2 separate regions of the Homo sapiens genome follow, and region 2 is linked to region 1. The links come from fine-mapping of genetic effects on gene expression. A gene starts in region 1. The other region holds a variant in brackets. All regions are shown on one strand. Distances are between the middles of the regions. Region 1 holds the start of CUTC (cutC copper transporter). Region 2 holds the start of ABCC2 (ATP binding cassette subfamily C member 2).

Evidence for each region.
Region 2: its variant is fine-mapped to the expression of CUTC in subcutaneous fat (TwinsUK, PIP 0.95).

What each region holds. Positions count from the first base shown.
Region 1 is chr10:99,728,333-99,737,352 of GRCh38, reverse strand. CUTC (cutC copper transporter) reads right to left here and starts at 5,119. Exons shown (of 9, transcript NM_015960.3): 1 at 4,944-5,119; 2 at 1,036-1,107. The coding sequence starts at 5,004. COX15 (cytochrome c oxidase assembly factor COX15) reads left to right here and starts at 5,226. Exons shown (of 9, transcript NM_078470.6): 1 at 5,226-5,393; 2 at 7,619-7,800. The coding sequence starts at 5,304. RefSeq lists an enhancer at 5,305-5,524.
Region 2 is chr10:99,774,073-99,783,092 of GRCh38, reverse strand. ABCC2 (ATP binding cassette subfamily C member 2) reads right to left here and starts at 453. Exons shown (of 32, transcript NM_000392.5): 1 at 216-453. The coding sequence starts at 248. The variant C/T (reference allele first, on the strand shown) is at 5,030.

The DNA.
Region 1 (9,020 bases):
TTCATCTATATTATAGCATGTATCAGTACTTCATTCTTTTCTATTGCCAAAGTAAGAAGGATTTTTTTAACTTTTTTTTTTTTTTTAGACAAGATCTGGCTGTGTCACCCAGGCTAGAGTGCAGTGGTGTGACTGGCTCACTTCAGCCTCTGCCTCCTGGACTCAAGTGATCCTCCCACCTTAGCCTCCCAAGTAGCTGGGACTACAGGTGCTCACCACCACGCTTGGCTAATTTTTCTATTTTTTGTTGAGACAGGGTTTTGCCATGTTGCCTGGGCTGGTGTCGAACTCATGAGCTCAAGTGATCTGGCAGCCTCAGCCTCTCCAATTACTGGGATTACAGGTGTAAGCCACTGCACCCGGCTGATGTTTACATTTTCAAAAGATTTAAAAATAAAATAAGTGATAAAGATCAAATGTGTCCAGCAAGGCTGAAAATATATATACTATGCAGCTCTTCACAGAAAAAGTTTATTGACCCCTGAAATAAATGAAAAACTGGCCATGTGTTGAAAATGGGTGAAGATGAGTGATGCATACATGGGGCTTCATTATCCTATTTGCTCTACTTTTGTATATGTTTATTTTTCCATAATAAAATTTTTTTTTAATTTTTCTGAACCTGAGATGATGGAAATGTCTGTGCTTCCCATTAAAACAGGTTCAGAGTACAACAGAAACTTTGAGGGAAAAATAGATAATGTTCAAAAGTAAAAAAGATAAAATTCCTCATGATGAAGTCTCTGAAGTCATCTTTAAGTTAATGGTTTAAAAAAATTAAAATTTTGCTAAGTTCAATAAAAAATCAAGTCATTGAGTAAGTACTATTGTCGACACTTGACTTAAAATGTGACCCACTTGGGGAGAGGGAGAGACTAGATCATAATTTTCCAGTAGGGTTTCTAATTGGTTGTTTCTGAAAGCATTATGAGGGATGCTTAGAGATCACAAGGGCTTCTGAGATAAGCACACAGGATTAATTTTCAGACTCTTAAAAGGGTAGCCAACGGTCATTCACTATCTGATTTCTCTTACCTCCTCTTTCTGCATTCACAGCTGATTCCACTGAATCAACACAAACTTCCATGAGAAATCCATTTGCTGCTCCTAAAATACATGGAGAATGGTAAGAGTTCATAAAGGTTCTATCCATCCAGACCAATTTACCACAAAGGGTTTACATTCTGCTGCCAAAATGCAAATGTCCAATAACAGGTAATAGATAAGTACACTAGGGCCCATGAATGCAATAAAATATCACATTAATTATTGAATTGATGCCTATAGACTGAAATAGGTACACAGACAGATGTATAAAAAATTATACTGAGGAAAATGTCTATCGAATGCCAAATTAATCTTCCTAAAACATAGACCTCATCATCACATTCCAGCTGAGATTCTTACAATGCTTCTCAATGCCTGCAGAATATATTTAAACTTCTTTATAAGGAATATAGGTTTAAAAGCAGGACAGACTTCAAATCCATGTCCCACCAACTATTTAGTGTGAGATCCTAGATTAGTTACTTAAGTTTTCTATAAAACAAGGTAGATTTTAGTATGTACCTCAGAGTAGTGAGGATTAAATTAGATAATTCATGTAAAGTATATAGTCTCAAGAATCAAAAAGTATTAGTTATCTGGCCGGGTGTGATGGCTCATGCCTGTAATCCCAGCACTTTGGGAGGCCGAGGTGGGTGGATCACATGAGGTCAGGAATTGGAGATCAGCCTGGCCAACATGGTAAAACCCTGTCTCTACTAAAAATACAAAAATTAGCCAGGCATCGTGGCATGCGCCTGTAATCCCAGCTACTTGGGAGGCTGAGGCATGAGAATCGCTTGAACCCAGGAGGTGGAGGTTGCAGTGAGCCAAGATTGTGCTACTGCACTCCAGCCTGGGTGACAGAGTGATACTCTGTCTCATTCCTTCTTATGCTTCCAGATCTCTCCAGTCCCTACCGCTGGCTCCCCAATGCCTTCTCCTCAACCCAGAGTTCCTTCTGGCTTCATCTCTGAATAAAATTTTTCAAGGAACATTTCCATGATTTTTTCTGTCTCCCAAAGTAGAAAATTTTATGTCCCTCTTTTGAACTCATTTAACTCTTCATGAGTTATGAAACCCCAATTGTTCCTTCTTAAAATATGAATTACTTTCTACCTTTTATTATTTATGCAGATAAATATCTGATCACTTCTACTTGACTTAGAGTTCCTAAGTTTGTTTTTTTTTTTTTTTTTTTTTTTTTGATACAGAGTCTTGCTCTGTCGCCCAGGCTAGAGTGCAGTGGCATGATCTCGGCTCACTGCAACCTCCGCCTCCCAGGCTCAAGCAATTCTTGTGCCTCAGCCTCCTCAGTAGCTGGGACTACAGGTATGTGCCACAACACCTGGTTAATTTTGTATTTTTTGTAGAGATGGGGTTTCGCCATGTTGCCCATGCTGGTCTCAAACTCCTGCACTCAAGCGATCTGCCAGCCTCGGCCTCCCAAAGTGCTGGGATTATAGGCATGAGCCACCACGTCTGGCCTCCTAAGTAAGGTCTTTATGTGAGAAATCTTTATCATCACCCACACCAAGCACAGTATCTACCATGGTACACAATAATCAAATATTTACTAAAAGCTGAATAATTACAACAAAATTAATGTATTTATATTACAAAGTGTGATGTAAACAGAGTTTTGAGTTTTTTTCCGGGAGCACATAATTTAAAAAAATGAACGAAACAATGCACACTTCATGTAATGACACTTACTAGAATGTTCCTCACATACTGGTAATGGTCACTTCTGGTGGGGTGTGATTTGAAATTATTTTTATTTTCTTCTTTTTACTTTTCTTTATTGCTTTATTTTTTCTACCCAATATTGCTTTTATAATTTAAAAAAGCAATTTTTACTTTGAAAAACAAATAAAACAAAAACCTATCATCTGCTAACATCAAACTGCAATTGCCTTACTTATTTAAGACTATCAGTCCCTGTCCGGCGCGGTGGCTCACGCCTGTAATCCCAGTACTTTGGGAGGCCAAGGTGGGCGGATCTGAGGTCAGGATTTTGAGACCAGCCTGGCCAACATGGCGAAACCCCATCTCTACTAAAAGTATATAAATTAGCCGGGCGTGGTGGCGGGCGCCTGTAATCCCAGCTATTCAGGAGGCTGAGGCAGGAGAATTGCTTGAACCTGGGAGGTGGAGGTTGCAGTGAGCTGAGATCAGGCCACTGCACTCCAGCCTGGGCGACAAGAGCCAGACTCCGTCTCAAAAAAAAAAAAAAAAAAAAAATACTATCAGTCCCAAACTGTGAAAGGGTTAAGTGTCAATCTATGCTCTTAACCAACAGCTCTGCATTATTAACTCCATGAGTTTCCTGGTAGCTACCAGACCAGCTGTCAGATCAGTGGCACTGGCCGATGCTGATGCTGCCGGGGGACTATTTGCCTCACACAAGAAAGGACCCTAGGCAGGAGAAGATGGAGAGATGTATAAAAAAGGCTATGACAGAAGGCAGAGCAAGGCAGTTGTCCCAAGCAACAAAGTTATAGGATCAAAGGAGAAGCAGCAGCAGTTCTCAAAGTGTAGTAGTCCAGAGAGCTTTGGGAGCCTCTGAGACTTTTCAGAGTCTGCAGGGCTACAACCGTTTTCTTAATAATTCTAACACTTTATTTGACTTTTTCACTTTAATTCTCTCACAAGTGAGAGGCGTTTTCTTTTTTGAGGCAGAGTCTCACTCTGTCACCCAAGATGGAGTGCATTGGCGCGATCTCGGCTTACTGCAACCTCCGTGAAGAGGCGTTTTCAAGAGGCTACTTGACATGTTAGACTGAATGAAGCAGCGGGCATGAGAATCCAGCTGTCTTCCATTAAGATATACTGAAGAAACTTGCAAAAATATATTTCCACTCTTTTGCTTTTTTTGTTGTTGTTGTTTAGGAATATTTCTTTTTCAAAAAAATATTATGTCAATATGTAATGGGTTTACTATGGTTATTTTCTAATCAATATTTTAAAATTTTGTTTTAATTTTATTTTTATTTTTTTGAGACGGAGTCTCGCTCTGTCGCCCAGGGTGGAGTGCAGTGGCGCGATCTCGGCTTACTGCAACCTCCGCCTCCCGGGTTCAAGTGATTCTCCTGCCTCAGCCTCCCGAGTAACTGGTATTACAGGCGCCTGCCACCATGCCCAGCTAATTTTTGTATTTTTAGTAGAGACGGGGTTTCACCATGCTGGCCAGGCTGGTCTCGAACTCCTGAGCTCAGATGATCTGTCCCCCTCGGCCTCCCAAAAAAAAATTTGTTTTAATTTCTAATACAGTCAAAATAGATAGATGTAATCCACATAAAGAAAAAATCTTTGAGGATTCTTGATAACTTTTAGGAAGGTTCCTCTTCACGGAGGAAGAGGGACTTGCCAAATTCTCTGGCACCTGCCATGCCATGCTACCCTGGCACTCAGGAAGAACTCGGGTCTTGGAGCAGCCACAAGCTCGGCCACTTGGTAGCTGCGTGACTTTGGGGACCAAGCCCCGTCCCCGCCGTGGCAGCTACAGGTAACTGCAGGTTAGGAACTGGGCTCCGCGCTCGACAATTAACTATCCCAGCGGAGTACTGGCTGCTGGTGCGGGCGGTACTGGCATCCTCGTGTGGCGACGGAAAAAACGTGAAGCTGAAGTTAACCAACTTGCACAAGGTCGCAGGGCCGTTATGAGGGGACCCCGGGACTCGAACCTTGGCTCCACAGCTGAGCCATTCTCGCTACCTGCCCCTCGTCACGCCCTCCGTTTCCACACCTTTAACGCCTCAAAGATAGAAGGTGCCGCCCAAGGGGCTGGAAGGAGCTGAGGAAACGACTCCAGAAGAAATCACCACTGACTACGACTCCCGCCGGCCCGCCCCGGGGAGCCTTCGGCCGACCGTCCCCTCCCCCGCCACCTTCCGCACCGGCCTTCCCGGACGGTATCCGCGCTCGTTTTCGCTCAGAGGAGGCCCCCTGCCTTTTCATGCTCCACGCGTTCCTCCCTCGTGCGCCTGCAGTTTCCACTTGGAATTTGGGCTCCGGCGCGCACCAGCTAAGAAGCGCGTCAACAGCTGCGCGCGCCCGTGCGCGCGTCCCCGACACCTACGCCCCAGCAGCCCCCGCGAAAGCGGAGTCGCAACGCAGGCGCACTTCTGTTCGCTCCGGTCCCCAGAGAAGGCGGGGCTCCCGCTGCCCGACCCGGAAGTGCTTCTCTTTTCCTTGGCGGAGGAGGGAGACCACAGAGCCCTGGGTTGTGGAAGAGGTGGCTGTTCCCTGTCATCAGTATGCAGCGATTGCTCTTTCCGCCGTTGAGGGCCTTGAAGGGGAGGCAGTATCTGCCGCTCCTGGCTCCTAGGGCAGCGCCTAGAGCACAGGTACCGCACTGCAGCGGACTCCGAGTCGCGGGAGCGGGGATGGAGTGAAAGGGCCGGGATAAAGATAATGTAGAGCCCCACATCACGTTTCCGGAGCTCCTTACAGTGCACTCACAACGCATAGGTTCAGATCAGAGCCCCTAGGTTCAGATCTGGAACATTGACCTGCTGTGTGGTATTGGCCAAGTTAATTAAACTTTCTGTTCTTCAGTTTCCTTATCTGTAAAATGGGGATAACAATACCTACTTTAAGGTTTGTTATGAGGATTACATTCTTTAATATACATCAGGCCTTTAGCACATGGTAAAAGCTGAGTAATTTTTACCCATATAGTTTATTTTTGCTTAAAAAGTTCCAAGTAGTCAGATGAGGAAGTATTACTGCATCCTACAGAGAAGGAAATTGAGGCTTAAAGTTACTTTTCTAAAGGTGACTCAGTTAATCAGAAATAGGAAACCGAGCATGGATCTTTGGACTCACAGGGATATAGTAAGAAGAGGGCATGCATTTGCTTAACTAGTAATTATTGAGTGGTTATTATATATTAGGAACTGGAAAAAGAAAGATAAATATTACAAGACTCCTGCCCTGGAGGAAGTCAGTTTATTCATTTGCGAAATCCTTATCATGGTCTCATTATATAAAGGAACAGTGTTAGAAACAAAGCTAGCAGAAGGGAGAGAGCAAGACTGACCGGACACTGCCACCCCAAAGCTCATAGTTTAGTGGGAGATACAAACAGATGAACCTGAAGGTAGAGTGATGTGCTGCATAACAACATTTTGGTCAACAACAGGCCACAGATACAGTCATGGTCCCATAAGATTATAATGGAGCTGCCTTTCCAAGTGTACCTTTTTTTTAAAAAAAAATCTTTTTCTCTAAATTTCTTTTTTAGAGACAGCGTTTTACTTTGTCACCCAGGCTGGAGTGCTGTGGCATGATTATAACTCACTGCAGCCTCCAGCTTGGAAATCCTGGCCTCAAGCATCCTCTTACCTCAGTCACTTAAGTAGCTAAGACTACAAGTGTGTGCCACTGTGCCTAATTTTTGAAAAAATAGAGATAGGGGGTCTCGCTACATTGCCCAGGCTGGTCTCGAACTACTGGCCTCAAGTGATCCTCTCACCTTGGCCTCCCAAAGCCTTGGGATTATAGGCTTGAGCCGTTGCACCTGGCCCCATTTTTAAATCTTTTATACCATATTTTTACTGTAATTTTTCTATGTTTAGATAAACAAATACCATTGTGTTACAGTATTCGGTACATAATATGCCATACAGATTTATAGCCTAAGAGCAATAAGTCATACCATATAGCTCAGGGGTGTAGTAGGCGATACCATCTAGATTTCTGTAAGTACTTTTTTTTTTGAGAGATGGAGTCTCACTTCATCGCCTAGGCTGGAGTGCAGTGGTGAGACCTTGGCTCACTGCAACCTCTGCCTCCCAGGTTCAAGTGATCCTGCCACCTCAGCCTCTCAAATAGCTGGGATTACAAGCATACACCACCATGCCCAGCTAATTTTTGTATTTTTGGTAAAGATGGGGTTTCACCATTTTGGCCAGGCTGGTCTTGAATTCCTGACCCAAGTGATCTCCCTGCCTCTGCCTCCCAAAGTGCTGGGATTACAGGTGTGAATCACTACACCCAGCCTTTAGATTTGTGTAAGTACATTCTATGAGGTTCACACAATGATGAAATTGCTTAAGAATGCATTTCACAGAACATGTGCCCCTGTTGTTAAGTGATGCTTGACTGTACATTACAGTGTATTAAGGGCTTTCCAGTGTGCTGTGGGAGTGACCTATTGCAGACCTTGAAGAGCCTGGGAATACATCCCAGAGGAGGTGACATGTAAGCGGAGATCTGCAGTAGGTATTATTAATCAGGGGAAAGGAAGTGTACAAGCCAGAGAGAAATGTTGAAAGACCTAGAGGTGAAAGAAAATATTCCATATCTGTAAGTAGAGTGAAGTCTGAGGGAAGTATTCAGAGATGAGAAGATTCATGTAGTTGGGGATAGGTTTGAGTGAGGCTAGATTTGAAAACCAATTGGAAAACCAGTTGGAAGGCTGATGCAGTAATCCAGATAAGAGATGATGACTTAACAAGACATGGCTGTGGGGATGCTATGGTACTTCGCGCTAATCAGAATGGGGTTGAGTGTGGGTAGCAGCCATTCCCTGTTTCTCCAGTTGTAATTTGTCTATCTTGATCTTTAGTGTGATTGCATCAGGCGCCCTTTGAGGCCAGGGCAATACAGCACCATCTCTGAAGTAGCTTTGCAATCTGGAAGGGGTACAGTGTCCCTTCCCTCAAAGGCTGCTGAGCGGGTGGTGGGCCGATGGCTCCTGGTCTGCAGTGGAACAGTGGCTGGAGCAGTTATTCTTGGTGGAGTAACTAGGTAAGTAATTTGCTCGTAGTGAGTCAGGTATTTGGATCATCAGTAGAAGCACAGGTTGACTGAGGAGAAAGGATTTTTTTTTTTTTTTTTTTTGAGACAGAGTCTTGCTCTGTTGGCCAGGCTGGAGTGCAGTGGTGTGATCTCGGCTGACTGCAACCTCCGTCTCCTGAGTTCAAGCGATTCTCCTGCCTCAGCCTCCCAAGTAGCTGGGACTAGGCGCGTGCCACCATATCTGGCTAATTTTTTGTATTTTTAGTAGAGACAGGGTTTCACCATGTTGGCCAGGCTGATCCAAACTCCTCACCTCAGGTGATCTGCCCACCTCGGCCTCCCAAAGTGCCAGGATTACAGGCATGAGCCACCATGCCCAGCTGGAGAAAGGAATTTTACAGAGCATCTAGTCTAGCTCCCTCATTGTATAGATGGAGAAACCGAGGCCTTAAAGAAGGAACATGTCTGATGGCTTGCCCTGCCATAGAACAGTTGAGTGTTTTATTAGTAGGAGCCTTCTATAAAGACTGGTTTATGTCTTAACTGGTACCTGTGCATTGTTTATGTATCTTTTCTCTTTCAATCAGAGTCCAAGTTTGTCTCAAAACTTTTTTTACAGTTTGTTTGAATTAAACCCAAAGAAGTTCTGTACATCACAATTGGTTCATGTTTCTTAGGTTTGTTTAAATCTATCAAGAGACTATAGATTTAGACACTCCTCCCTTTCCCCCTCTTCTAGTTGCTGAGGAAACTCTAGTCATTTGTCCTATGGTTATGCACAGTTTAGATTTTGCTGACTGCATAACTGTGTGATATTTAACATGTTCCTTTGTCCCGTCTATTTCCTGTGAATGAGTAGTTGGTTGATCAGATTCAAATTAGGGATGAGGGAGCAAAATACTTCAGTAGGTGAATAGAACATTCGTGAATATCTGGTGTCTATTATAGATGTTAACAGCCATTAATTACCATTGCCTAGATCCATTATTTCATTAGCGTAGCAAAATTATAATATTTTATTAGCTCAACTCTAAAAAGCTTTCCCTCATCATCAGTTTGGATATCCCAAGGTATAGTTTGTATAGGAAAGGCAGGATACATACTTGATTCTTCTTTCCCTTTATTTACCAATTTTCAAAATAATAAATTGGTCCCCCAAATCCTCCAAAGGCAACAAATAAAGGATTTGAATTTTTAAGGCTCATTATGAGATCATAGGTTCAAACACA
Region 2 (9,020 bases), 46 kb before region 1:
TAAAAAAACATATGACAGAGAATAATTTGCATTACATTTCCCAGATCTTATATCCTCTGGAGATATTATGAATTATGCTTTCTAAAAAGCCTGAGCTTTAGACCAATTGCACATCTAACATTTCTGGTTCTTGTTGGTGACCACCCTAAGTTAACTAACTACCACTTGTTCTGAGTCTGAGAAGAGTCAATATGAAGATAAATGTAATTTCTCACCCAAAAAGTAGAGTTGCAGAACTTCTCCAGCATGATTCCTGGACTGCGTCTGGAACGAAGACTCTTCTATTAATATGATTGTGTTGTTTCTTCTTTACTTGTTTCATCAAAGAAAGTGGAACAGGAATTATCTACCATTCTGATGTTCTCCGTAAAGGATGACCTTTCATCCCAACCATTTAATCGTTAACCTTGCCTAGATGCATGTTACATTGAAACAGTGGATGGACATGTGACTAAAAAGCCCTAGGGACAGGGAGACTCACCAGTTCCCAAAGTACAAGAGGCCTCTGTAGGAGTGGCCATACATAAAAGGAACCACTGAAAGATGTCAACAGAGCTGGCCAACAAATCAAGAGTGCACAGTCTTTCATTTTCCTAAGGACATATGACCCACAAAGGGCAGCATCAGTAGAGGGGCAGGCACCCCTAAATGTGCAGTTTCGCTTCTGCTGCAAGATCTTAGAGTTTATAGAAATGTGAAATATCCTTCTTCCTTAGATTTTTAATTAAAAATATAGAATCTAAAACATGGTTTAAACATGATGTAAACTTTCTTTGAAGAAGTCAGGTTATAAAATAGCTTATCCAGTGTGAGCCTATATGTTATATACATAATACAGGCTTTCAAAAGTTCTATTTGCCTGAGAGGTAGTATGCCAAATGGGAATGAAGCCTTTGCCAGGCATTGTAAATATGATATCATGATAAAACATCAGGGCCAGAGGAGAGGGGTGATTCTGTAAACAGAGTGGTGGCATCAGTCGCTAGAAACTGTCATCGACCCAACCTTTTCTTTTTTTGTTATTGTTTTTTGTTTTTTGAGACAGGGTCTTGGTCTGTTGCCTGAGCTAGAGTGCAGTGTTGCCATCATGATTCATTGCAGCCTTGACCTCATGGGTTCAAGCGATCTTCCTGCCTCAGCTTCCTGAGTAGCTGGGACTACAGGCACATGCCAACAAGCCCAGCTAATTAAAAAAATGTTTTCTGTAGGGACGGGGTCTCACTATGTTGCCCAGGCTGGTCTCAAACTCCAGGCTTCAACAATCCTTCTGCCTTGGCCTCCCAAAGGGCTGGGATTGCAGGCATGAGCTACCGTGCCCCACCTGACCCAACCTTTTGTACTGTCACTTAAATTGCTTTAAGAACATGCTTTTTTCATGATATCATGAACCACCCATGCGGTATCCTAGCTAAAACATAACCACCCATGCAGTATCCTAGCTAAAAAAAATTGGCCTTAAATCTGGTCAAATTCTAGATCTAACTACCGGATTATAAGAAACACAGGAACATGCTAAAGGACTCCATTGGAATGCAATTGTCAAAATCCAGAATGTGGGAGATTCTATAGTGCAAATGATTCCATTTTTTAATAAATAAATTAAAAGAAGGAAAGGAGTCAAAGGAACTTACAAATTACAAGAGAATCAAGAGGCATATCAGCCAAATGTGAATTGTATGGACCTTGTTACTGATTTTAAAAGTCAAGTATACACATAAAAAAAATGAAAAGGCAGCATTCAGTGTGGGAGAAAATATTTGCAGACCATATAACTGATGAAGAGTTAATATCCACAATATACTATAAGGAACTCATACAACTCAATAGCAAACATACACTAACAAATTAAAAAGTGGGCAAAGGACTTGAACAGACACTTTTCCAAAGAAGACATATAAATGGCCAACAGGTATATGACAACTGAATCAACTTCACAAGTCATCTGGAAAACACAAATCAAAACCACAGTTAGATACCACCTCATACCTATTAGGATGGCTATTACAAAAAAAAAAAAAAAACAACAAGATAAGTGCTGGCAAGGGTGTGGAGAAAAGGGAACCCTAGTATACTGTTGATGGAAATGTAAATTGGTCTGACCATTATGAAAACATATGGCAGTTTCTCCATCATTTTCCATACCACTCACCAGAAGAGCCAGGAAAGGTCAGCTGTGGAACTAAGAGATCTCACTTGGGGCAGGGTGCACCTTTAGGCTGCATACTTCTCTTGGCACTGGTGGTAGGACTCGGAGTCCGGGGGAACTCTTGGTAAAACTTTGAGAAATATAAGGTCAAGGATTAACACCTAATTTTCTTTTTTTAATTTTTTTGTAGAGCCTCAAACTCCTGGGCTCAAGCGATCCATTCGCCTCGGCCTCCCAAACTGCTGGGATTACAGGCATGAGCCATCGTGTCTGGCCTAAACGTTCTAAGTAATCAAAAAAAGAGAGGGTGGAGAATCTAAATGTTCATCAAAACAAGTTGCTTAAAGTATAAAATATGTACTCATAGGGAATATTGAATGAGAAAAGCAAGTAAGGAGCCAGGAAGTCATGAATCTTTCCTAACAATAACTAAAAATCTGAACAAATAGAAAAATCAATAACTCTTCTTAGATCTGTAGAGAGATAAGGTTACAGGGCAAACTGAAGAGATAAACAAGAGAATATCAAAAATCACAATTTACTGGCGCAGAAATCTCAGCAGGGGCCGGGCGCGGTGGCTCACGCTTGTAATCCCAGCACTTTGGGAGGCCGAGGCGGGCGGATCACGAGGTCAGGAGATCGAGACCACAGTGAAACCCTGTCTCTACTAAAAATACAAAAAATTGGCCGGGCGTGGTGCCGGGCGCCTGTAGTCCCAGCTACTCGGAGATGCTGAGGCAGGAGAATGGCGTGAACCCGGGAAGCGGAGCTTGCAGTGACTTGAGATCACGCCACTGCACTCCAGCCTGGGCAACAGAGACACTGTCTCAAAAAAAAAAAAAAAAAAAAAAAGAAAAAAGAAAAGAAATCTCAGCAGGAACCAGGGCTAGGGCAGGAAAACCTGAACTGTAATTGAATTGCCGGAGGCCCAGTGTAGATAAGTTTGAGAGAGAAAAATTCCAGAGTGACTCAGCCATAAGGAGGGGATGATCTCCACACTTTCATGAGTTTACCCATAGGAATTCAAAGAGGTTCTCAAATATTGTTCTCTTTTTATTAGAGAAAAATCTCCTCCTGCTTCCATGTCCCTGGCAGAGGGGATAGGAAAAGTAACCATTTGAAATATACCTGGACACTCTATTCTTCTCTTCTAAACAAAGTCTGCCCTTGGGAAAAACTGTTTAAATAGAGCCTAATGCTCTTGATTTATAGGAGCCTAAATGATGCCGGAGAAGGGAAATAAGAACTCCAGTCTCTTCTAGCCTTCCACATGAAAACTGAAAATACCCAGCTGCAGCCCACTCTAGCCATCACGTCCCACCTAACAGGGATCGGGGCAGATAGGAACTGAGAAGCACTTGTGAAATTCAGTCTAGAGACACAGGTTTACTAAAAGACTGAGACCTCTTCACAGAACTATAGAACTCTTCCTCTCCCCCTCCCCCACTGTATACCACACTACTAAAGGTCTAGTTACAGCACTTCCTTTTACTCCGTATATCCTGTCCAGCTATGAAGAAAACATTGCCAGGCATACTAAAAGGCAAAAAAAAAAAAAGAAAAAAAAAAGGCTTTAAAGAGACAGAGAGCAAGCCTCAGAACCAAACTCAGATATGACTGGGATGTTGGAATTATCAGACCAGAAATTTAAAACAACTATGATCACAATGCCAAGGGCTCTAATGGATAAAGTAGACAGCATACAAGAACAAATGGGTCGATGTAAGCAGAGAGTTTAAATTCTAAGAAAGAACTAAAAAGAAATAAATACTAGAGATCAAAAACACTGTAATAGAAATAAAGAATGCCTTTGATGGGCTTTTTGGTAGACTGAACAAGGCTGAAAACAGAATATTTGAACTTGAAAATAACTGCCAAAACTGCAAAAATAAGTAAGACTATATAAACAGAATCTCCAAGAACTATGGGACAACTACAAAGGGTATAACATATGTGTAATGGAAATAGCAGGAAGAGAATAACCAGAGAAAGGAACAGAATAAATATTTGAAGCAATAATGAAAGAGAATTTCCCTCATACTAATTTCAGACACCAAATCACAGATCACAGAAGTTGAGAGAACACCAAGTAGAACAAATGCCAAACAAACAAACAAAAGCCCTACAACCAGGCATGCATATATAAGTTGCAGGAAATCAAAGATAAAAAATTCTGAATGAAGCCCGGGGAAAAAGACCTTACTTGTAGAGGAGAAAAGATGAAAATTATGTCCAACTTTTCCTCAGCAAGCATGCAAGCAAGAAGAGAATGGAATGAAATATTTACAGTGGTGAGAGAAAAAAGCCACCAACAGCCAGCATTCTGTACCCACAAAATTATTCTTTAAAAGTAAAGAGAAGCCAGGCACAGTGGTGCGTGCCTATAGTCCCAGCTATTCAGGAGGCTGAGGTGGAGGGATTGCTTGATCCAAGAGTTTGAGTCCAGCCTGGGCAGCATAGTGAGACACTCTCTCTCTCTCTCTCTCTCTCTCTCTCTGTCTCTCTCTCTCTCTATATATATATATAAAATAATAATAAATACATAAATACATTCTCACACAAACAAAGACTGAGGGAATTTGTTGCCAGTAGACCTGCCTTGCAAGAAATGTTAAAAGAATTCCTATAGAGGAGTGGTCCCCAACCTTTTTGGCACCAGAGACCAATTTTGTGGGGAATGGTTTCAGGATGAAACTGTTCCACCTCAGATCATCAGGCATTAGATCTCATAAGGGTGTGCAACCTAGATCCCTCACATGCACACTTCACAATAGGGCTCACACTCCTATGAGAATCACATGCCTCTGCTGATCTGACAGGAGGTGGAGCTAAGAAGCCTGCTGCTCACCACCTGCTGTGCAGCCCTAACAGGCCTTGGACCAG[C/T]ACCAGTTTGTGGCCCAGGTGCTGGGGACCCCTGCTTAAGAGAGAAGGAAAATGATATAGGTCAGAAATTTGGATTTACATAAAGAAAGGAAGAGCACTGGAGAAGAAATAAGGTGAAATAAATTATTTAATTCTAACTGACCTAAAAAATAGCAGTTCACTCAAAATAATAGCAACAATGTATTCAATCATGCATATTTCTGTGTATATTTTTAAATGCTTATGTATAACAAAAATGAATGACAGCAAAGACATAAGGGATGGGAGGGAGAATTAGGATTATTTTGTTATTATAAGGTACTCGCACTACCTGTAAAGTGCATAGTGTTCTTTGAAAGTGGACTTGGATTCATTGTAAATGTGTATTTAAAACTCTATGGCTGGGATCCTGGGCACTTTGGGAGGCTGAGGTGGGCAAATCACAAGGTCAGGAGTTAGAGACGATCCTGGCTAACATGGTGAAACCCCGTCTCTACTAAAAATACAAAAATTACCTGGGCGTGGCGGCACATGCCTATAATCCAGCTACTCAGGAGGCTGGAGAATCACTTGAACCCGGAAGGTGGAGGTTGCAATGAGCCGAGACGGTGCCACTGCACTCCAGCCTGGCGACAGAGCTAGACTCCGTCTCAAAAAGAAAACCAAAAACAAACAAACAAACAAAAAACCTCTAGGGCAACTGCTAAAAATGTAAAAAAGAAAAAGAGGAAGTATAACTGATATGCTAAGAAAGAAGAGAAAATGTAATCATATAAAACAGTCAACTAAACCACAAAAGTGAAAAAAAGAGTGGAAGAAAAAATAGGAAAAGAGAACAAAGACAACAAAGAGAAATAGTCACCACAAACATGGTAGATAATAATCCAACTGTATCAATCATCATATTAAACATCAATAGTCATAATATACCAGGCAATGGAATATTATTCAGTGCTAAAAAGAAATGAACTATTGAGCCATGAAAAGATGTGTAGGAAACTTACATGCATATTATTAAGTGAAAGAAGTCAACCTGAAAAGGCTACATACTGTATGATTCCAACTAGACGGCATTCTGGAAAAGTCAAAACTAGGGAGACAGTAAAAAGATCAGAGGTTGCCAGGGGTTAGCAGGGAGGGAGGAATGAATAGGTGGAGCTCAGAGCATTTTTAGGGCAGTGAAATTATTCTGTATGATAACTATAGTTGTGAATAGATGTCATTATAAATTTGTCCAAACTCATAGAATAGAGAAAACCAATAGTGAACCTTAGTGTAAACTATGGGCTTTGTGTGATAGTGTTATGTCAATGTAGGTTCATCAGTTGACACAAATGTACCACTCTGGTGGGGGCTGGTGATAAACTGATGATGAGGGAGGCCATACATAATGGGGGCAGGGCATTATGTGAAGTCTCTATACTTTCTGTTCAATTTTGCTGTGAACCTAAAACTGCTCTAAGAAATAAAGTCTATTTTAAAAAAGCAAGTGGTAGAATAGTGTGATTCCATTTTGATTTAAAAAATTATGTATTTACACTTAACAGATTCAAACAATATAAACGTTGATTCAAATAAACTATTCACAGTGGTTATTCTTGGGGTGGGGGAAGGCAGGGGCTTCTGAGCCTTTCTTTTTTACATTAATGAATGTAAAAAATGAAATGAATGAATATGAAAGTTCCTGCAGCCCAAAATGGGTTCTAAAAGGACTGACAGAAGCATTGCAGAACCATGATCTGTAATCTTCTGGAATCACTGAGAATCATAAAAGCATCAAAAGATGGGACGAATGCCTTGATATTTTTAATAGGGATAGGAAGGCTGTACAATGAAACACTGCAAAACATAAATAAAGGAGTCAGGAAACCTGAATTCTAAACTTAGCTCTGCTGGTCCTATGTAAAAAGATTGATCCCAAATCTCCTCTTAATGGTCTCAAAACATCTCTTCTTAATGACTCAGTGTGGGTGTGCTGCAGTGTAAATCATGGATTGCACAGAGATAATTCAATAGAAAAGAATGACTCATCTACATGATTCAGGAGAAAATATGCTGTATCATTTCTATTTAGCAAGCAAATGTTAACTAATTAAGTTTTGCACTTAAATAACTTTGAAAAATCTACAAAAGTTCAATGTCCAAGATAAGCAGAGTGGTCCACTTTTGGTTAATCATTAGAGATAGATTTAATAAGGATTTTCATTCTTGTGTAGTATCTTGGAACACATATCCAAATTTAAGTGAGAACAGTAAAAACATTGTTTTCCCTTCACATTTTTTAAATTGAGCTAGTAATTCATGTTCCTATAAAAAATTAAAAACTGTAACTAGGAAATAATAAAATAATTACTCCCAAATTCTCCCCCCAAGAATAATATTAACATTTTTATACTTCCAAAACAAACAAAAATCTTTTTAGAGGCCGGGCGCAGTGGCTCATGCCTGTAATCCCAGCCCTTTGGGAGGCCGTGGCAGATGGATTGCCTGAGGTTGGGAGTTCGAGACCAGCTTGACCAACATGGAGAAACCCCATTTCTACTAAAAATACAAAATTAGCCAGGCGTGGTGGTGCATGCCTGCAATCCCAGCTACTCGGGAGGCTGAGGCAGGAGAATGGCTTGAACCTGGGAGGTGGAGGCTGTGGTGAGCCAAGATCATGCCATTGCACTCCAGTCTGGGCAACAAGAGCGAAACTCTGTCTCAAAAAAAAAAAAAAAAAAAATATATATATATATATATATATATATATATATATATATATATATATATATATATATATATAGTTTTGGAATATCCAGGGACCAAAAAAGACATACAGATAATTGAATTAACATGAATTTTAAAAAAAACTTTCTTCTATTGTAAAACTATTCTTCCTGTAATTATTAAAAATTGAAATACAGTGAAATTCTTTTGAATAAATTCAAAGAATATGTTAAATAATGAATGAACTCATTGAATTAGACTTAGGTTCTATAAAAAAGAGTTAACTATTCAAAGTTTTAGATAATTTTTACAAAGAGTATATACTTTTACAAATAATGAAAGTTATCAGTGGTACAGAATGATGTTCCTTGTATATTTAAAGGATAAACTTTTAACTTGTGACAAACTACCGCAAATGGGCTGAATTGTTCCGTATTTTTTGGGCAACAGGATATCAACATAGAAAATAAATGATTAGGCCGAGCACGGTGGCTCTTGCCTGTAAATGCAGCACTTTGGGAGGCTGAGGCGGGTGGATCACTTGCGGTCAGGAGTTCCAGACCAGCCTGGAGAACATGGCAAAACCCCATCTCTACTAAAAAATACAAAAATTAGCCAGGCGTGGTGGTGAGCTCCTGTAATCCCAGCTACTCAGGAGGCTGAGGCAGAGAATCACTTGAACGTAGGAGGCAGAGGTTGCAGTGAGCCGAAATTGTGCCATTGCACTCCAGCCTGGGTGACAGAACAAGACTCTGTCAAATTAAAAAAAAGAAAGAAAGAAAGAAAGAAAGATTAATTTAGGTCTTTACTTCATATCATCCCATACAGTACATCCTTGATAGGTCATAAAATACCAGAAAAAAATGAACTAACATAAAAAGATGCACTAGACAAAAAAATACTCTTCTGAGTACTGGAAACAAAGGATGATATTATAAAAGAGAAATATGTATACATAATTTTTAAAGAGAATGTTATAAAACAAATATTAATATTGAAAGCAGCCAAACTGAGAATATATCTGATATAAATAACATGGGGGGCAATATAAACAGTAAATTATCACATGGAAAAACATATAGATAGCTTCACAAGCAATTAAATACAAGTAAATTATCAAACATTTCGGAAAGAAACTGTTAATAGTGGTTAATTGCAGAAGAGCTAGAAGACTGAAAAAAATAAGCTAAAAAAAACCCCACACATATAAGGGCTGGATGCAATGTCTCACGCTTATGTAATCTCAACACTTTGGAAGGCCAAAGCAGGAGGATCACTTGAGACCAGCCTTGGCAACATAGCA